Regions from separate parts of the Homo sapiens genome. Here all the other regions are linked to region 2. The links come from fine-mapping of genetic effects on gene expression. A gene starts in region 2. Each other region holds a variant in brackets. All regions are shown on one strand. Distances are between the middles of the regions. Region 1 overlaps NECTIN2 (nectin cell adhesion molecule 2). Region 2 holds the start of NECTIN2 (nectin cell adhesion molecule 2). Region 3 overlaps NECTIN2 (nectin cell adhesion molecule 2). Region 4 overlaps NECTIN2 (nectin cell adhesion molecule 2).

Evidence for each region. PIP is the estimated chance that this variant, and not a neighbour inherited with it, causes the effect.
Region 1: its variant is fine-mapped to the expression of NECTIN2 in whole blood (TOPMed, PIP above 0.99).
Region 3: its variant is fine-mapped to the expression of NECTIN2 in whole blood (TOPMed, PIP above 0.99).
Region 4: its variant is fine-mapped to the expression of NECTIN2 in whole blood (TOPMed, PIP above 0.99). The same link has a PIP of 0.9 or more in blood mononuclear cells.

Annotation. Positions count from the first base shown.
Region 1 is chr19:44,880,318-44,884,317 of GRCh38, forward strand. It overlaps NECTIN2 (nectin cell adhesion molecule 2), which reads left to right. Exons shown (of 9, transcript NM_001042724.2): 6 at 1,894-2,047. Among named protein-coding and RNA genes, the nearest start is that of TOMM40, 8.9 kb to the right of the region's middle. RefSeq lists enhancers at 1-268, 269-1,118. The variant G/A (reference allele first, on the strand shown) is at 1,528.
Region 2 is chr19:44,840,809-44,848,169 of GRCh38, forward strand. It overlaps NECTIN2 (nectin cell adhesion molecule 2), which reads left to right and starts at 5,489. Exons shown (of 9, transcript NM_001042724.2): 1 at 5,489-5,805. The coding sequence starts at 5,718. RefSeq lists silencers at 3,853-4,252, 5,120-5,169, 5,250-5,329, 5,460-5,559 and an enhancer at 7,199-7,361.
Region 3 is chr19:44,871,434-44,875,433 of GRCh38, forward strand. It overlaps NECTIN2 (nectin cell adhesion molecule 2), which reads left to right. Exons shown (of 9, transcript NM_001042724.2): 3 at 420-716; 4 at 2,483-2,600; 5 at 2,897-3,045. Among named protein-coding and RNA genes, the nearest start is that of TOMM40, 18 kb to the right of the region's middle. The variant A/C (reference allele first, on the strand shown) is at 1,575.
Region 4 is chr19:44,866,369-44,870,368 of GRCh38, forward strand. All of the region lies in intron 2 of NECTIN2 (nectin cell adhesion molecule 2), which reads left to right. Among named protein-coding and RNA genes, the nearest start is that of NECTIN2, 22 kb to the left of the region's middle. The variant C/T (reference allele first, on the strand shown) is at 2,405.

The DNA.
Region 1 (4,000 bases), 38 kb after region 2:
ACAGTCTAGTATGGAAATTGGCAAGTAAACGGGTAACCACTCCAAAAACTCTTCCATTAGGAAAGACTTGAGAAATGGAAACGGGAGGTGCTAGCAAGGAAGGAGAGGCCCAGGAGCAAACAGGCTTCTCGCTTCTCGACCCCTTTTCCTGTCTTGCCTTTTTTTTTTTTTTTTTTTTTTTTTTTTTTGAGACGGTGTCTAGCTCTGTTACCCAGGCTGGAGTGCAGTGGTACGATCTCGGCTCACTGCACCCTCCACCTCCCAAGTTCAAGCAATTCTCCTGTCTCAGCCTCTTGAGTAACGCACCCAGCCTTTTTTTTTTTAAGAAGTGGGGTGGTCTCCCTATATTACCCAGATTGGGCTCAAACTCCTGGGCTCAAGCGATCGATCCTCCCACTTCAGCCTCCAAAAGTGCTGGGATGACAGGTGTGAGTCACTGTGCCTGGCCCCTGGCTAATTTTTTTTTTTTTTTTTTAAGACGGAGTTTCACTCTTATCCAGGCTGGAGTGCAATGGCGCGATCTTGGCTCACGGCAACCTCCGCTTCCCAGGTTCAAGCAATTCTCCTGCCTCAGCCTCCTGAGTAGCTGGGATTACAGGCGCGCGCTAGCATGCCCAGCTAACATTTTGTATTTTTAGTAGAGACAGGGTTTCTCCATGTTGGTCAGGCTGGTCTCAAACTCCCAACCTCAGGTAATCCACCTGCCTCGGCCTCCCAAAGTGCTGGGATTACAGGCGTGAGCCAACGCGCCCGGCTAGCCCCCGGCTAATTTTTAAAATTTTTTCTAGAGATGAGGTCTTGTGCTCGTTGCCCTGGCTGGTCTTGAACAATCCGCCCGCCTCGCCCTCCCAAAGCGCTGGGATTACAGGCGTCAGTCACTGCCCCAAGCCCTAACCCCCTTCCTGATAAGTGGAAGGAGATTCTAGTCCCCAGAGGTGATTCTGGATCCCAGAATTCTGTCCCCGCATTCTCTGTCTTCTAGCCGCCCCTGGTCCTGTCTCCTCTCCTCTCATCTTCCCACTCTGCCCCGCCTCATTCTGCCCCAGCTACACAGTCTACTTGCTGTTCTTTAAAAACAATACAAGGCAGGCCGAGCACGGCATAATCCCAGAACGTTGGGAGGCCGAGGCGGGAGGATCACTTGAGCCCAGGAGTTCAAGACCAGCCTGGGCAACATGGCAAAACCCCATCTCTACAAAAAAATTCAAAAAAAAAAAAAAAAAGCTGGGCCTGGCGGCACATGCCTGTAGTTCCAGCCACTCCGGAGGGTGAGGTGGGAGGATCGCTTGAGCCCAGGAGATTGGGGCTACAGTTGGTGGTGATCATGCCACTGCACTCTAGCCTGGGTGACAAAGCGAGACCGTCTCAAAAAAAACCATAGAGCCCCACAAGCCTCCTGCAGGGCCGCTGGCTGTTTGCGCTGCCTGCGATACCCCCAGACACTCTCATGACTCATCCCCGGTGTCTCTTTCAGGCCCTTGCTCAGTTGTCACCTTACAGTAAGGTAGAGGCCCTCCCACTACCTTC[G/A]GGGACCCCACTTTGCACCTCCTATCACTTCCGCACTGTATATTTTTGTATCCCCCGTGACTTACTCCCATCTGGCATGTGAGCTATTGTACTGGTTTGCTTACTGTTGTTCTCCCTGCCCAACCAGAATCAAAGTTCCATGAAGGTAGACACTTTGTATGTTTTGTTCTCCACTCATCTCCCATGCGGGGCACACATCCTCGCTCCTTCCTCATGCTCAGCAGTTTGAGTTGAATGAAAGAATGTCCCCTGCCCATGGGAGAGGACATAGACAGGCAGGCGATGATGTGGGGTGGGATGGTCGCTTGGAATAAGGAGCTGTGGCTTCCTCCTGGAGACCCCCTCACGCTGTCCCTCTCCTTGCAGAGACCCCCAACACAGCAGGCGCAGGGGCCACAGGCGGCATCATCGGGGGCATCATCGCCGCCATCATTGCTACTGCTGTGGCTGCCACGGGCATCCTTATCTGCCGGCAGCAGCGGAAGGAGCAGACGCTGCAGGGGGCAGAGGAGGACGAAGAGTAAGTGATGGGCCCTGAGACGGGGATGGGAGAGGGGTCGAAGAACTGAGGAGTATGGGGTAGGGGTGAGGGTGGGAGAAAATTCTCCATAATGGCTGTGTGAAACAGACAGACCTAAAGGAACTGGGGTCTAAATGGAGTAGGGAGGTATGGGTTTCTCTCTGCTATAAAGTATGGCATTGAATTTAAAAATTAGCTGGGGGCCAGGCACAGTGGCTTACACCTGCCATCCCAGCACTTTTGGAGGCTGAGGTGGGGAGATCGATCGTTTGAGCCCAGGAATTTGAGCCCAGTCTGGGTAACATAGGAAGACTACCCCCATCTACAAAAAAAAAAAAAAAAAAAAAAAAATGGCCACGCAGGGTGGCTCTGACCGCTCCGCTCTGCAAAGACTCCTCGGAGCCCAGGATCCTACTACATTTTTTTTTTTTTTTTGTGACGGAGTCTCACTCTGTCACCGAGGCTGGAATACAGTGATGCAATCTCGGCTCACTGCAAGCTCTGCCTCCCAGGTTAAAGCAATTCTCCTGCCTCAGCCTCCGGAGTAGCTGGGAATACAGGCGCCCACCACCATGCCCAGCTAATTTTTTGGATTTTTAGTAGAGACAGGGTTTCACTGTGTTAGCCAGGATGGTCTCTATCTCCTGACCTTGGGATCCCCCCTCCTCAGACTCCAAAAGTGCTGGGATTACAGGCGTGAGCCACCATGGCTGGCCAGTTGTTAATAAAAGAAGAAAGGGCGGTTCCTAAATTGTTATGGAGAATTTACATTAAAATAACGTAAGCTATTGATTGGCTATCCATTGCTCTTTGTATCACAAATTCCAGAAACCTGAAGATAAAGAGTAACACTGGTCAGGCAGGGTGGGTCAGGCAGGGTGGCTCCTGCCTCTAATCCCAGCACTTTGTTTTGTTTTTGTTTTTGTTTAAGATGGAGTCTTGGTCTGTCGCCCTGGCTGGAGTGCCAAGGCGCCATCTCGGCTCACTGCAACCTCCGCCTCCCTGGTTCAAGCGATTCTCCAGCCTCAGCCTCTCGAGTAGCTGGGATTACAGATGCGCGCCACCACGCCCGGCTAATTTTTGTATTTTTAGTAGAGACGGAGTTTCACCATGTTGGCCAGGCTACTCTTGAACTCCTGACCTCAAGTGATCCACCCGCCTCGGCCTCCCAAAGTGCTAAGATCACAAGCATGAGCCACTGCGCCCAGCCAATGCCAGCACTTTGGAAGGCCAAGGCTCTTGTTGCTAGTGGTTCGAGACCAGACTGAACATCAAAGTGAGACACCATCTCTAAAAAAATAAAACAAACAAAATTAGCCAGGCAAAGTGGTGCACACCTGTGGTCCAGCTCCTCAGGAGGCTGGGGTGGGAGGTCACTTGAGCCCAGGAGCTCAAGTCTGCAATGAGCTATGATCATGCCACTGCACTCTAGCCCAGGTGACAGAGCAAGACCCTGTATCTTAAAAAATAAAAGACTGGGCACGGTGCCTCACACCTGTAATCCCAGCACTTTGGGAAGCCAACCCAAGTAGATAACTTGAGCTCAGGAGTTCGAGACCAGCCTGGGCAACATGGCGAAACCTGTCTACAAAAAAAATACAAAAATTACCCAGACCTGGTAGCCCATGCCTGTAGTCCCAGCTACTTGGGTGGGCTGAGGTGGGGGTGGGGGCATGTGGAGGCTGCAGTGAGCTATGATCACACCACTGTACTCCAGTCTGGCCAACAGAGTGAGACCTTGTAAAAAAAAAAAAAGAAAAGAAAAATAGCTCAGAGCAGTCTGAGGTATGCGAGCTATGCAAAATTTGTTTTTTTGAGACAGGATCTCACTCTGTCCCTCAGGCTAGAGTTCAGTGGTATAATCTGAGCTCACTGCAACCTTCGCCTCCTGAGCTCAACCAATCTTCCTACCGCAGCCTCCCAAGTAAATGGGACCACGTACCACCACACCTA
Region 2 (7,361 bases):
CACAGTGGCGAATGCCTATAGTCCCAGCCACTTGGGAGGCTGAAGTGGGAGGATTGCTTGAGCCTGAGAGGTGGAAGCTTCAATGAGCCATGATTGTACCACTGCACTCCAGTCTGGCCAACAGAGCATGACCCTGTCTCAGAATAAGAGCCGGGTATGGTGGCTCACGTTTGTGATTCCAGCACTCTGGGAGGCCGAGGCAGGCAAATTGCTTGAGCCCAAGAGTTCAAGACCAGCCTCGGCAACAACCCAAAAACCCATCTCTACAAAAAAATAGAAAAATTAGCCAAGCATAGTGGCACATGCCTGTAGTCCCAGCTACTCGGGAAGTTGACATGGAAGGATCCCGAGCCAGGGAGGTCATGGCTGCAGTGAGCCATGGTAATGTCACCACACTCCAGCCTGAGCGACAGAGTGAGACCCTGTCTTAATTAAAAAAAAAAAAAAAAGACTGAGGGGAGGAAGTGGTTAGGGGAGCTGCTGCTGCTGCTAAAAGAAAGGAAAGGTTGCCAGGCAGGTAAAATACTTGGCATCAGCTCCATAGCTCCGTCAGGAAGCCTTTGCCCCTACCTATGCCCCTACCTTCTAGTGGTTATGGCTCTTCAGTGAAGTGCCACCTCTGGGACTCCTTGACACTAAAAGTCAACTCCCCAGGCGGGCGTGGAACCCACCCAGTCATTTGTCACCAAACTTGGTGCTCAGCCTCATGCTTGTGACCCAAGGGTGTGAAACTCCAGCCTACACCTCTGGGGCATTTTTTTCTTTCTTTTTTTTTTTTTCCTTTTTTTTTTGGCAGAGCCTTGCTGTCACCCAGGCTGGAGTGCAGTGGCACAATCTTGGCTCACTGCAACCTCCACCTCCCGGGTTCAAGCGATTCTCCGGCTTCAGTCTCCCAAGTAGCTGGGATTATAGGCACCCGCCACCACATCCTGCTAATTTTTGTATTTTCAGTAGAGACAGGGTTTCACCACGTAGGCCAAGCTGGTCTCAAACTCCTGACCTCAGGTGATCCATCTGTCTCGGCCTCCCAAAGTACTGGGATTACAGGCTTGAGCCACCATGGCCAGCCTCCTGGGGCTTTCTTCCTGGGCTCATCCCTGCTCACAAAGAACAGCCAGGAGAGAGCTAAGCCCACTCATTCGTAGGCCAGGAGAAAGGAGGTGCTAGAGGCCTTCCTAGAAGAAGACTTCCTGGGGACTGGTTCTTTTGTTCAATGGATAAACGGGGGTCCCAGGATTTTGCAAAGCAAGTTAGTAGCAAGGCTGGCACTAAAACCCAGAGGTCCTGGTCCACAAACCTGGCCTCAGATTGGGGAGAGAAGGTCAGAGAGATCTAAAGCACATTTATTGCCAGGCGCGATGGCTCACACCTGTAATCCCAGCACTTTGGGAGGCTGAGGTGAGAGGATCACTTGAGGGCAGGAGTTCAAGACCAGCCTGGGCAACAAAGCGAGAATCAAATTCTACAAAACATTTAAAAATGCACCGAGCAGCCGGGCACAGTGGCTCACGCCTGTAATCCCAGCACTTTGGGAGGCCGAGGCAGGTGGAGCACGAGGTCAGGAGATCGAGACCATCCTGGCTAAGACCATGAAACCTCGTCTCTACTAAAAATACAAAAAATCAGCTGGGCGTGGTGGCAGGCACCTGTAGTCCCAGCTACTCGAGAGGCTGAGGCAGGAGAATGGCATGAACCTGGGAGGCGGAGCTTGCACTGAGCCAAGATCGCGCCACTGCACTCCAGCCTGGGCGACAGAGCAGAGACTGTCTCAAAAAAAAAAAATGCACCGAGCATAGTGGCACATGCCTGTAGTCCCAGCTACTCAGGAGGCTGAGGCAGAGGATCCCTTGGGCTGGGAAGTTTGAGGTTAGAGGGAGCCAAGATCTGCACTCCAACCTGGGCGACAAAGCACAACCCTGCCTCAAAATTAAATACATAAATAAATTAAGCACATTTATTTATTTTACTGTTTTATTTTATTATTATATATATTTTAAGAGACGGGGCTCTACCATGTTGCCAGGCGTGTCTTGAACCCCTAAATTCAAGTGATCTGCCAGCCTTGGCCTCCCAAAGTGCTGGGATTGCAGACATGAGCCACTGCGCAAGGCCTATTTGTGTATTTATTTATTTTAGAGACAAAATCTCTCTGTCTCCCAGGCTGGAGTGCAGTGGCTCAATCACAGCTCACTGCAGCCTCAACCTCCCTGGGCTCAGGTGATCCTCCCACCTCGGCCTCCCGAGTAGCTGTAGCTGCTATGCATTTATTATGTGTGCGCCTATTTGTCCAGCCATCCTCACACCCAGTTTGTGCCAAGCCTGAGACACAAGCTATCTGGAGCTCACATGGCATGGAGGTTAAAAGCACAGACTGGCCGGGTGCAGTAGCTCACCCCTGTAATCCCAGCACTTTGGGAGGCTAATGCAGGCAGATCACAAGGTCAGGAGTTCGAGACCAGCCTGACCAACATGGTGAAAGCCCGTCACTACTAAAAATACAAAAATTAGCCGGGCGTGGTGGTGCGTGCCTGTAATCCCAGCTACTCAGGAGGCTGAGGCAGGAGAATCACTCAAACCTGGGGGGCGGAGGTTGCAGCGAGCCGAGATTGATTGCGCCACTGCACTCCAGCCTTGGCAACAGAGCCAGACTCCGTCTCAAAAACAAAAAGAGCACAGACCATCCGGGCCCAAAAGAAGCACCCGGCCTGCTATGTGTCTTTGCTGGGTGGCTTGGGGCAAACAACCACCCTGTGCCTCAGTTTACTTTTCAGTGAAATGGGGATCACCATGGTGTCCCCTTCATGGGATCCCTGTGAGGAACTAACTAAGAGAAATAAGGTGCTTAGAAGAGTCAGCTCTGGCTCTGCCATTTTGTTTATTTTTATTTATTTTTAATTTCTATTTTATTTTATGTTTTTCAGACTGAGTCTCACTCTGTTGCCCAGGCTGGAGTGCAGTGGTGCGATCTCGGCTCACTGCAACCTCCAACTCCCGGGTTCAAGCGATTCTCCTGCCTCAGCCTCCCAAGTAGAGACAGGGTTTCACCATGTCGGCCAGGCTGGTCTCGAACTCCTGAACTCAAGTGATCCACCCGCCTCAGCCTCCCAAAGTGCTGGGATTACAGGCGTCAGCCAGGGCGCCCCGCCCTGGCTCTGCCATTTTGTAACTCAGTGAGTCACTTCATCTCTCTGCTTCAGTTTCCCTATCGCCCATGGCGCTGCATGGCTTACATGAGATAATATTCGCAGTGCACTTAGATCAGTGCCTGGCACACGGTAAGTGCTGACTACATGTATTAACAGTATCGTAAGTGCCGGGCGCGGTGGCTCACACCTGCAATCCCAGCATTTTGGGAGGCTGAAGCGGGTGGATCAGGAGGTCAGGAGTTTGAGACCAGCCTGACCAACATGGTGAAACCCCGTCTCTACTAAAAATACAAAAATTAGCCGGGCGTGGTGGCGCGCGCCTGTAATCCCAGCTACTCAGGAGGCTGACTCAGGAGAATCGCTTGAACCCAGGAGGCAGAGGTTGCAGTGAGCCGAGATCGCGCCACTGCCCTCCAGCCTGGGCGACAGAGCGAGACTCCGTCTCAAAGAAAAAAAAAAAAAAAGGATCATAACTAAGACTCGAATGCGGAGGGATAACAGCCTCTGCTACTTGAAACCTAGTCCTTCTGGGGAGGAAAGCCCAGGTGTGTGGCAGGTGGAAGGGAGGGCGAGCCTAGGTGGTCCTCTTGCTAGGGCAAGAAGCCCCCAAGCACCTGCCCCCAGCTGAGCAGCTCCGCGCCTCCTGGCCCTGGACGAACTTGGGCCCAGACTGGCGCTCCGTGGCACCCCCTCCCCCGGCCTCCCGCTTCGCGCCCTCATCCCGCCCCCCGGCGCGGCCTCACCAGCTCCCCCTGGGCAGCCCAAAGAATGCGAAGAGGTAGGTGGGGGTAGGGAGGAGGGCGAGCCGCTGGGAGAGACAAAGGGCCCGAGTCTGAGCGAGAGACACAAAGACGCGAGGAGGCTGGGGAGATAGGGGAAGTGGGACAAGGACGCGGGGAGTGACCAGGTCCGGAGGCCGGACTGGAGCCCAGCCCCACCCAGCCCGGCCGGGCCAGCGCAGCGCGGGGGCCGGTCTCTGCTGCCCCCTGGCGGGTGGCTGCGGTGAGAAGGCGGCGCGGAGCAGGTGTTGGGAGGGGAGGACCAGGGCGCGCAGGGAGGTAGGGAGGGAAGGAAGCAGAGAACAGAGCAGGGACAGAGAGACAGCGAGAGAGACTCGCACGCAGAGACAAGAGACGCCGAGAGGGAGACACAGAGAAAGAGACAGGGACAGAGAGACACAGATAGAGACAGAGAGAGACACACGGAGAGACAGAGACAGAGAAGCACAGAGATAGAGAGGCACAGAGATAGAGACAGAGAAACACAGAGACAGAGAGGCACACAGAGACAGAGAGGCACAGAGACAGGCCGATAGAGACAGAGATACACAGAAATAGAGACAGAGACAGAGAGGCACACAGATAGAGACAGAGAGACACAGAGACAGAGTCAAAGGATGGAAAGAGACATGGGGACCAAGTGACCCAGAAACAGTGACAGACAGGCCGGGCTTGGTGGCTCACGCCTGTAATCCCAGCATCTTGGGAGGCCGAGCCGGGAGGATCGCTTGAGGCCAGCCTCAGCAACATAGTGAGACCCCGCCGCCCCCCCGCCCCGTCTCTTTTATTGAAATAAAGAAACAGTGACTGACAAAGGAAGACCAGAAACAGAGCGACACCGAAGCATGAGGACGGAAAGACCCAGAGAGGCAGAAATACAGGGACAGAGAGGAAGACCCAAAGAGAGTGAGAGAGACACAAAGACACGTAAGAGAGACAGAGAAATCCAGAAAGAAACGAGTGCAGCGACACCTAGAGTTCGGGGCAGAGATTAGAAACGCACGAGGGTACGAGAAACAGGCTCAGGGCGATGGGCTCGACCTGCGGGGAGGTCGCACAACCGGGACGTGCTGGGGGCAGAACCGTAAAGCCCCACGTGCCTCAGGCAACTGTGATGAGAGGACCCGGGCAGGCAGGAAAGGGCAGGATTCGAACTGTGGGTGGGACAGAGGCCAGGACGGACTGAGCTAAGAGACCGAGAGAACTCCGGCTAGGGCGAGGGGCGGGGCTGGTGGAGGCGGGGCTGGTGGGGGCGGAGTCGGCCGGAAGGGCCGAAAGGGGCGTGGCAAGACCTTGGCGAGGCGGCCGGTAGGCAGGGGGCGGGGCGTGGGAACTACTCGGGAGCAGAGGGGGCGTGGCTAGACCTTAGGGGGCGTGGTTTAACGCCGGGAGCGAAGGAGACAGAATTCTTTGGCAGGGGCGACCTTAGAATCCTGGGGAGGAGCGAGAATGGAATCCCGGGGAGGAACAGGGGTGGAATCCGGGGGGCGGGGTCAGAACGCCAGGAGGGGGCGGGGCCGGAGCCAGGGTCGGCTTGACTCGGGGGAGCAGCGGGTGGATCCTGTGACGTCAGCGGGTTCGAACCGCCGGAGCTGAGCGAGAGGCCGGGGGTGCCGAGCCGGGCGGGGAGAGCTGGGCCGGGAGAGCAGAACAGGGAGGCTAGAGCGCAGCGGGAACCGGCCCGGAGCCGGAGCCGGAGCCCCACAGGCACCTACTAAACCGCCCAGCCGATCGGCCCCCACAGAGTGGCCCGCGGGCCTCCGGCCGGGCCCAGTCCCCTCCCGGGCCCTCCATGGCCCGGGCCGCTGCCCTCCTGCCGTCGAGATCGCCGCCGACGCCGCTGCTGTGGCCGCTGCTGCTGCTGCTGCTCCTGGAAACCGGTGAGACGAGCGGACGGCCCCCTGCCCTCGCGCGGACCCCCTCCAACCTTACCTTCCGAGCTGGGGAAGCCGAGCACCTTCCCCGCCCACCCCCGGCTCCCCGAGCCCCCTCTCGCGTGCCCCCTTCCTGGCTGGCCCCACAGACTCCGACCCCCTACACGTCCGATTCTCTCGAGGAGACTCTGACCCCTCCTTTCTGCATCTCTCTCACCACCACCCCCATCCTTCTTAATCCAATTGCCCATCCTACGCCTGCTTGTCTGTCCCCCTCCCCATTTCTCGGATTCCCGCGCCGAAAGGGTTAAATCCCAGGAAGGCCTGGTGCCCCCTCCCCACCCCGCGCCGAGTAGTTCACCCGGATCTGGGTCTCTGTCTCCTCTACCCCTCTCAGGAATGTGGGGAATGTTCCCCCCACCTACCGCAGTAAGGTCTCGAGGAAGAGGCGAGACCACCTCCCTCCCCTATTTTTCCTTCTTCCCGGCTTGGGCGTCTGAGGCCCGGAGAGAACTGAGGACAAGCGGACCTGATTCGGGTCCCTTGGAGGGCTAAGGATAAGAGTTCTGGCGACTTAGGGGGAAGGGCCTGAGCTCGGAGCTCCAACCCCGAACCTCAGGGAGTTGGGGGTTCTGACTCCGTGGACTCCAGAAAAATTAGGGGCCGGGGGCTCCGTCTTCAGGGTCCCTGGTAGAATGGAGGCTAGGCGCTAAGTCTAACTGGGATCTAGGTAAAACTGGGGGCGAGAGAGGATCAAACTTGTAGCTTCTGGATTTAATTGTGGGCAGGGGGCTTCGTTTTCAGGGTTCCCGGCAGAACCGGGGGACAGGAGACTCGATCTCGTGGGCTTCAGACTTAATTGTAGGCAGAGGAACGTCTTCTGAGATCCAAACAGAAGTGCGAGCAGCGGGCCCCGTCTCTTGGGCTCCAGATATGATCAAGGGTCGAAGGCTCTGTCTTGAGGCTGGAGTCTCAGTCGCCTGAGTCCCAGATAGAACGGGAGGCCCCGAGTCCCAGAGGCTGGGAGACTCCTCCCTTTCCCTATGAATGGTCGGGGGCGACGGAGACGTCGCCGGGGAAGTTTTCCTGGTTTCACTCTCGCCGAGCCAGGGAGGGGCGGGGCGGGCGCTCCTGGCTCCGGGTTCCGGACTCCCCGGTTTCGGGACCTTATCTATCCTCTGGTAGCGCCTTTGTCCTCAGAGCCATAGCAGGAGGTGGACGAGTGGAGCCGCCGCCCTTATCCCCCGTCCCTCCCATTGCTATGCCTTGGACCCCCTGGCGTCCTTCCATCCACCCCACTAGGGGAGGAGAGCGGCCCCCCTGGGGAGGGAGGGGCTGGGAGGGAACCCTTGAAAGAGGCGCTGGCCCCGCCCCTTGCAGGTGACCCGGTTGTGTATTCCCAGCGACAAACTCTGGGATGCTAGAGTTTCCCGAGGGTTTGCGCAGAAGAGAGCTCAGGGGGATCTTGGGGGAACCCCGGCCACCTCTCTGGCCTCATTTCCCCCAGGATGGCTCTCACTGGCCTCCCAGCTTTGACCCAGAGCTGGGAACTCCGCTTCCAT
Region 3 (4,000 bases), 29 kb after region 2:
GGGAGGATCACTTGAGCCTAGGAGGTGCAGGCTGCAGCAAGCTATGATCACACCACTGCACTCGAGACCAGGTGACAGAGCGGGCCCCTGTCTCTAAAAAATAAATAAAGTAAAATAAAATGGGCAACACTTGGATAGGGCAGTGCAGGCCAGACATTACCCTAAGCCATTTACCTATCAATGTATTATTTAATTCACACAGCAATCCTAGGGGTGGGTACTTTCATTATCCCCATTTTACAAAACAAGAAACAGCTACAGAGTTGCAAAACCACTTATCCCAAGCCAGGCCGCTGATAAGCAGCAGAGCTGGGATTGGAACCCCGGCAGTTAGGGCCTAACCACCCTGCTCCTCTGCTGAGTGTTTGTTGAATGACTGCCGGTGAGGAGTGACGCACCCCCTCTCCTCCTCTCCCCAGCCAAGCCCAAGAACCAAGCTGAGGCCCAGAAGGTCACGTTCAGCCAGGACCCTACGACAGTGGCCCTCTGCATCTCCAAAGAGGGCCGCCCACCTGCCCGGATCTCCTGGCTCTCATCCCTGGACTGGGAAGCCAAAGAGACTCAGGTGTCAGGGACCCTGGCCGGAACTGTCACTGTCACCAGCCGCTTCACCTTGGTGCCCTCGGGCCGAGCAGATGGTGTCACGGTCACCTGCAAAGTGGAGCATGAGAGCTTCGAGGAACCAGCCCTGATACCTGTGACCCTCTCTGTACGCTGTGAGTGTATCGGGGGTGACCCCTCCCCCATCAAAACTGCCTACACTGGCTTCTCTAAAGCACTGTCTACATTGTCTCTGAATGTTGTCTACGTGGGTTCCCTGAAGCCAAATTCTGCACTACCTTCCTGCCATTGTCTACACTGGCTCCCATGGGCAAATCTACATACTTCCCCCTCATTGTCTACATTGGCTTTACTGGGTTCCTGCATGCTGTGCCTAGTCTGTGGTAACCTGGGATGGGCTTGCAAGAGCCAGTTTGATACATTTCTTTCCAATTCCACATCCAATGAAGTCTTCTCGGTAGCTTGAAATCAACCTTGGGGAATATTTACACCAAGGAAATTGGCAAACCCTAGAAATGGGGGCTTCTTTTATTCCCCAGAGAGTTGGTTTACCAGCAAAGAGCTGCCCCCAACAGTGTCTTTTCTGGCTCCCATGGACCCCGGTTGACACTGCCCCTGGACCGTTAGATCAATCATGCTGGGCCATGTCCACATGTCTACATGTCTACACTGCCCAACCTAACATCGTCTCCACACCTTCCCATACTTCTGCCTTGACTTCCCTAGGTGCCATCTATACTGAGTCTCCCAGAGTCTCTACACCGACCCCTGATCCTTGATATTATTTACATTGTATTTATTATTTATTATTTATTATTATATTTTTATATATTATATATTATATAAAATATATAAATTATATATTATATATTAACATATATTTTGTCATTATTTATTATTGTTATTTAATATAATATAATTACATTATATTATATATTACATTACAGGCTCCACCCCCCGGGCCCTGTTGATCCTGACCCCTCCCACTGGGTTTTTTGCTAGCTCTTCCAGAA[A/C]CTGCCTATACTCACACCTCGTAATGTTACCCAGAGAGGCCACCCTGGCACTCTTCACACAGAATCCCTCAAATACTGGCTTAACCACCTCTTCCACCACTGTCCAAAATGACCACATATCCCAACTCAATGTTGTCTACACTAGCTCCCCAGGCAATGCCTCCACTTACACAGATTCCCTAAGCCAAGTCTACACCAGCTCCCCCAGGCAACATGCATCACGTGCGCCCATAAGTGCAACAGCTCCCCTGAGCCTCGTCTGTGCCACTTTCCTCCCGGGACCTACACTGGTTGCCCAAACCCTGTTTTGACATCCTCCCTCCATGCCAAAAACACACACACAGGCCGGGTGCGGTGGCTCACACCTGCAATCCCAGCACTTTGGGAGGCCAAGGCGGGCAGATCACTTGAGGTCAGGAGTTCGGGACTAGCCTGGGCAACATGGTGAAACCCTGTCTGTACTAAAAATACCAAAATTAGCTGGACGTGGTGGTACATGCCTGTAATCCCAGCCATTTGGGAGGCTGAGGCGGAGGGATGGCTTGAGCCCAGGACGTGGAGTTTGCAGTAAACCAGGATCACCCCACTGCTCTCCATCCTGGGCAACAGAGCAAGATCCTGTCTCAAAAACACACACACACACACACACACATTATTTGTAGTGGCTCCCTTAGGCACTGCCAGCACTGAACAATAACTCCCACAAAATTATCCACAGTGGTTTCCCTGAACAGTGTCTACACTGACATCAGCACACAACAGCCTGGACTGATTTGCCCCAGACAGTTTTGACTGCTGTACCTCCTGCCAACCCGCCCCGTTTCTTTAGCATTCCTGTCTATCTGCTAACTTGTCCACCCGCTCTGGGATTCTCCTCCTTGCTGATCCAGTCCCCCCATTTCCCCCAGACCCTCCTGAAGTGTCCATCTCCGGCTATGATGACAACTGGTACCTCGGCCGTACTGATGCCACCCTGAGCTGTGACGTCCGCAGCAACCCAGAGCCCACGGGCTATGACTGGAGCACGTGAGTCACGTGGTCTCAGAACCCTGGGTCTGAGGGAGGCGGGGCTGGGGGCCTGGACTCCTGGATCTAAGGGAGGAGGGGCTGGGGGCCTGGACTCCTGGATCTGAGGGAGGAGGGGCTGGGCCTAAATTCCTAAGTCCTCCAGGATGAAGGGAGCTTGCATTTTGGCAATTTGGGGTCTCCGGGAGTACTTAGGTCCCTGGAGCTTGGCTCCTGGTGGGTGTATCTTTAGGGATGAGGCCTGTGCTCCCCTCTCGACCTTGGTATCCCTCTCACCTGACCCCACACCCCTCCAGGACCTCAGGCACCTTCCCGACCTCCGCAGTGGCCCAGGGCTCCCAGCTGGTCATCCACGCAGTGGACAGTCTGTTCAATACCACCTTCGTCTGCACAGTCACCAATGCCGTGGGCATGGGCCGCGCTGAGCAGGTCATCTTTGTCCGAGGTGAGTGGGTCTTGGGGGCCGTGTGTGGAGACCTGGGTCCGCTCCCCTGGAGTTCTGCCCTTCAGGACTTGGGGCTGCACTGGGGGAGGCTGCGCCGCCGACCTGGGAGGGATGCAGACCTGCCTGGCTGAGGGGAGATGAGGGTTGGCCTTCCCCTCGTGGCCTCAGACTGGGGTCTGGATTTGGGGTGTCGGGGTAGGTGAAGGCAGCAGAGTTGGGGGGTTGAGGACTTTGCTCGGGGTTCCTAGAAAGTAGAGGCCTGGGTAGGGTCCTCACGAATAGACCCGAGGAAGCTGCCCTGGGCTCCAGCTCCTGAGAAAGACGCACACCTAGAGTCAGGCATGCAAACTTCAAAGAGACAGAAACCAAGAGCTCCCACCCCCAGAAACACAATCCGGCCCCAAGGCACGGAGCCAAAGAGGAAAAGCACAAAGCCAGACCATCACCCAGTGATGGAAACTGGGTCAAACTCACAACTGCAGGGCCACACACCTAGAGCGCGGCCGGGACTGTTAACAGAGCCATGCTTCCTGGGACAGAGAGACCCCTGGGTCCTGGAGATAGGGCCAGAGACCCCTCCTGTCAGAGCCACAGCTGGCAGGATCCACAGCCACAGACACTCCCTGTGCTGAGAAATTCTGTTGCAGAGATGCATCAGAATCCAGACACTCACCTGGATGGTAACCCTGCACGCTCAAACCCATTGTCACCAAGACACACACCCAGGAGGACAGTGGCACCAGCCAAGATAGACTGAACGAAGCCAGATGACACCTGGAAAGGGACATTCTTTTTTTTTTTTTTTGAGATGGAGTCTCGCTCTGTCGCCCAGGCTGAAGTGTAGTGGCGCAATCTCAGCTCACCGCAACCTCCGCCTCCCGGGTTCAAGCAATTATCCTGCCTCAGCCTCCTGAGTAGCTGGGACTATATGCGCTCACCACCAAACCCGGCTAAG
Region 4 (4,000 bases), 24 kb after region 2:
CACTCTAGCCTGGGTGACAGAGTGAGGCCCTATCTCTAATAAATAAATAAAAGAGTAAGTCAGGCAGTTAAAGGGGCCATGGAAGTTGGAGAGGGCCAAGTTGCAATTCTAGCTAAGGAGGTCTGGGGATATTTAGGCAGAAACTAGGAGAGGAGGAGCCCTCTGGGTATCTAAGGGAAGAGCGTTCCAGGCAGACGGAATGGCAAGTACAAAGGCCCTGAGACAGGAATACCTGGAGTATTTGAGGGCCAGGAAGGAAGTCAGGGTGGCTGGAGACATATGAGTGGGGGAAAGTAGGAAGCAATAAAGTCAAGGAGAGGATGGGGACAGATTGGCAAAAGCCTTGTGGACTATAAGAAGCCTTTGGCTTTTGCCCAGGGAGGATAAGAGCTGTAGTAGGTTCTTAGCAGCAGACAGGTTTGATCTGGCTTGGGTTCTCACCAGCTCCTCCTGGCTGTGTTGGGAGGGGAAAGAATGGGAGCTGAGAAACCACAGGGTAAGGCAACTACAAAGTCCGGGTGGGGCCGGGTGCTGTGGCTCACGCCCATAACCCCAGCACTCAGGGAGGCCGAGGTGGGAGGATCCCTTGAGCCTAGGAATTTGAGACCATCCTAGGCAACATAGTAAGACTCTTGTCTCAATGACAAAAAAAATTTTTTTTTTTTTTGAGACAGAGTTTTGCTCTTGTTACCCAGGCTGTAGTGGAGTGGCGCGATCTCGGCTCACTGCAACCTCCGCCTCCCAGGTTCAACCAATTCTCCTGCCTCAGCCTCCCAAGTAGCTGGGATTACAGGCTCCCACCACCACACCTAGCTAAATTTTTTTGTATTTTTAGTAGAGACGGGGTTGCACCATGTTGGCCAGGCTGGTCTTGAACTCCCGACCTCAGGTGATCCGTCCACCTGGGCCTCTCAAAGTGCTGGGATTATAGGCATGAGCCACTGAGCCTGGCCAGGAAAGAAAAAAAAATTGTTTTAATTAACCAGGCTCAGTGACTTACCTGTAATTTCAGCTACTCGAGAGACTGAGGTGGGAGGATCACCTGAGCCCAGGAGGTTGAGGCTGCAGTGAGCTGTGATTGTGCTACTGCACTCCATCCTGGACAAGAGAGCGAGACCCTGTCTTAAAACAAGTCCAGTCCGGGCAGGAAGTAAAACGGCTTAGAAGTAGGGGACATAGTGGCCTCATTGAGATAGGATGTGCAGGGAAGGCGTCTTAGTCAAGTCCTGGAGTCTGAGAAGGAGCTACCTTTGGGCATAGCAGAGGGGCACGGGCACAGAAACCTGGGAGGTGGGCATGAGATGGGAGCTGGGCGCGTTCCAGGAATGGAAAGGGGGCTGGTGAGGATAGGCAAGGGCTTGGGTGACCCTCAGCGGGGCCACATTACACGGGCTTCACAGGTGGAGGCGAGGAGGCTGGACTATGCCCTCAGCATGGTTAAGAGCCATGGGAGGTGTCAAGCCACAGGAGAGATCTGGACAAACGTTTGAGGTTGCAAAAAATGACCGGCAGCAGTATGAGGAGTGATTGGAGGAGTGGACGGAGGTAGAAGGGAGCTGGGACGAGAGGGGAGAAGAGGCATTGCTGGGAAGACGGATGAGGCAGTGGGGGGCAGAGGGAAGCGGGCGGCATATAGTGGTGTTTTTAGAAGATAGTAGGTGCTGGGCTTGCCCATGGATTGAGGGGGAAGCAGGATCAGAGAGGAGTCCCAGGCCTGGTGCGGTGGCTCACGCCTGTAATCCCAGCACTTTAGGAGGCCAAGGTGGGCAGATCGCTTTGAGGTCAGGAGTTTCAGACCACTCTGGGCAACATGGTGAGGCCCCATCTCTACAAGAAAAAAAAAAATTAGCTGGGCATGGTAGCACACACCTGTAGTCCCAGCTACCCAAGAGGCTGAGGTGGGAGGATCGCTTGGGCCTGGGAAGCAGAGATTGCAAGTGAGCCAAGATTGCACCACTGCACTCCAGCACGAGACCCTGTCTCAAAAAAAAAAAAAAAAAAATAGGACTCCCAGCGGGAAGGTGACTGATACTTGGCAAAAATAGAGAAGGCAGGGAAGATTTTTTTTGAAGGATGCTTTTTTTTCTTTTCCTTTTTCTTTTTTTTTTTTTTTCTTTTTTTGAGACAAAGTCTCACTACATTGTCCAGGCTAGACTCGAACTCCTGGGCTCAGGGGATCCTCCTACCTCCGCCTCCTGCATAGCTGGGATTACAGGCATGAGTCACCACATCCAGCTACGAATGCTCTTTCTTTAAATCTTGAGGCTGGGCGTGGTGGCTCACTCCTGTAATCCCAGCACTTTGGGAGGCCGAGGCGGGCGGATCACGAGGTCAGGAAATCGAGACCATCCTGGCTAACACGGTGAAACCCCATCTCTACTAAAAATACAAGAAATTAGCCAGG[C/T]GTGGTGGCGGGTGCCTTAGTCCCAGCTACTCGGGAGATTGAGGCAGGAGAATGGCTTGAACCCGGGAGGCGGAGCTTGCAGTGAGCCGAGATCGCGCCACTATACTCCAGCCTGGGCGACAGAGTGAGACTCTGTCTGGAAAAAAAAAAAAATATGTTGGAAGTCCCCTGGGAGCCCACCTTCCCTAGGCAACTTCCCAGAAGCCACGTCACTCTGGATGCCTTTTCTTCCCCCTTCTCAGCCCAGAGCGTCTGAGAAGGTCACCCTGTGCTATCCTTGAGTAAACACTTCCCTTTCCAGTAACACATGAAACCACAGCCGTTTTCCATAATACAAAGGACAGCTCTTCTCCTCCCCACCCTCACAAACGCCTCTCTTCTTGTGCAATCATTTGTTCTCATCCAGAGATAACTTCAGGGCTGGGCACGGTGGCTCACACCTGTAATCCCAGCACTTTGGGAGGCTGAGAGGCAACAAGAGCAAAACTCTGTCTCAAAATAAATAAATAAATAATGAGACTCAGAAAATATGATTAAGGGCCAGGCGCAGTGGCTCACGCCTGTAATCCCAGCACTTTGGGAGGCCGAGGCAGGCGGATCACGAGGTCAGGAGATTGAGACCATCCTGGCTAACACGGTGAAACCCTGTCTCTACTAAAAATACAAAAAAATTAGCCGGGCGTGGTGGCGGGTGCCTGTAGTCCCAGCTACTTGGGAGGCTGAGGCAGGAGAATGGCATGAACCCAGGAGGCGGAGCTTGCAGTGAGCCGAGATCGCATCACTGCACTCCAGCCTGGGCGACAGAGCGAGACTCCATCTCAAAAAAAAAAAAAAAAAGAAAAGAAAATATGATTAAGTGTAGGGTTTAATCAAGCCCAAAGCTTGAGGATGACCACCTGGGAGCATAGATTGAAGTTGCCCTGAATATACACTTCAAGCAGGGGCCAAGGCAAGCAGCTCTTGCAAGTGAGCTTTTGTTTGTTTGTTTGTTTCTTGGAGAGAGGGTCTCCAAAACTACAAATAAAAATTAGCTAGGAATGGTGGCGCACACCTGTAATCCCAGCTACTCAGGAGGCTAAGGCAGGCGAATTGCTGAAACCAGCAAGGGCAGGTTGCAGTAAGCTGAGATTGCACCACTGCACTGCATCCTGGGTGACAGCAAGACTCTGTCTCAAATTAATAAAAAAAAAAGAGAGAGAGAGAGATAACCTCAAGAGCTTCCGTATACACACTGGTGCAGAAGTAAGGAACAAAACAGCCAAAGCCTCTGTCTTCATGATGCGTGAGCCACCAAGGAATAGTTGGCCAGAGTCGGCGGTCAGGAAAGTGCCCTTGACGAAGTGGGGCTTGGAGTGGGGTCTGGAGAAGGAGGCCAAAGCAATCCAGGCACAAAATCACCAACCAAAACCCCAAAGTGGGTGGAGGCAGAGACTGAGGAGGGCGTGGATGGGGAGCATGTGGAGTGGCCAGGGGAGGTGGCCATGGGGAAGTGGTGGGCTCGGGCCCTGAGTCACTATTCTAACAGCTTGGAGGGCGGCCAGGAGGATGTGGGGAGGCTTGTTGGATGCTCCACGATGGTCAGGGGAGAAGGCGGTG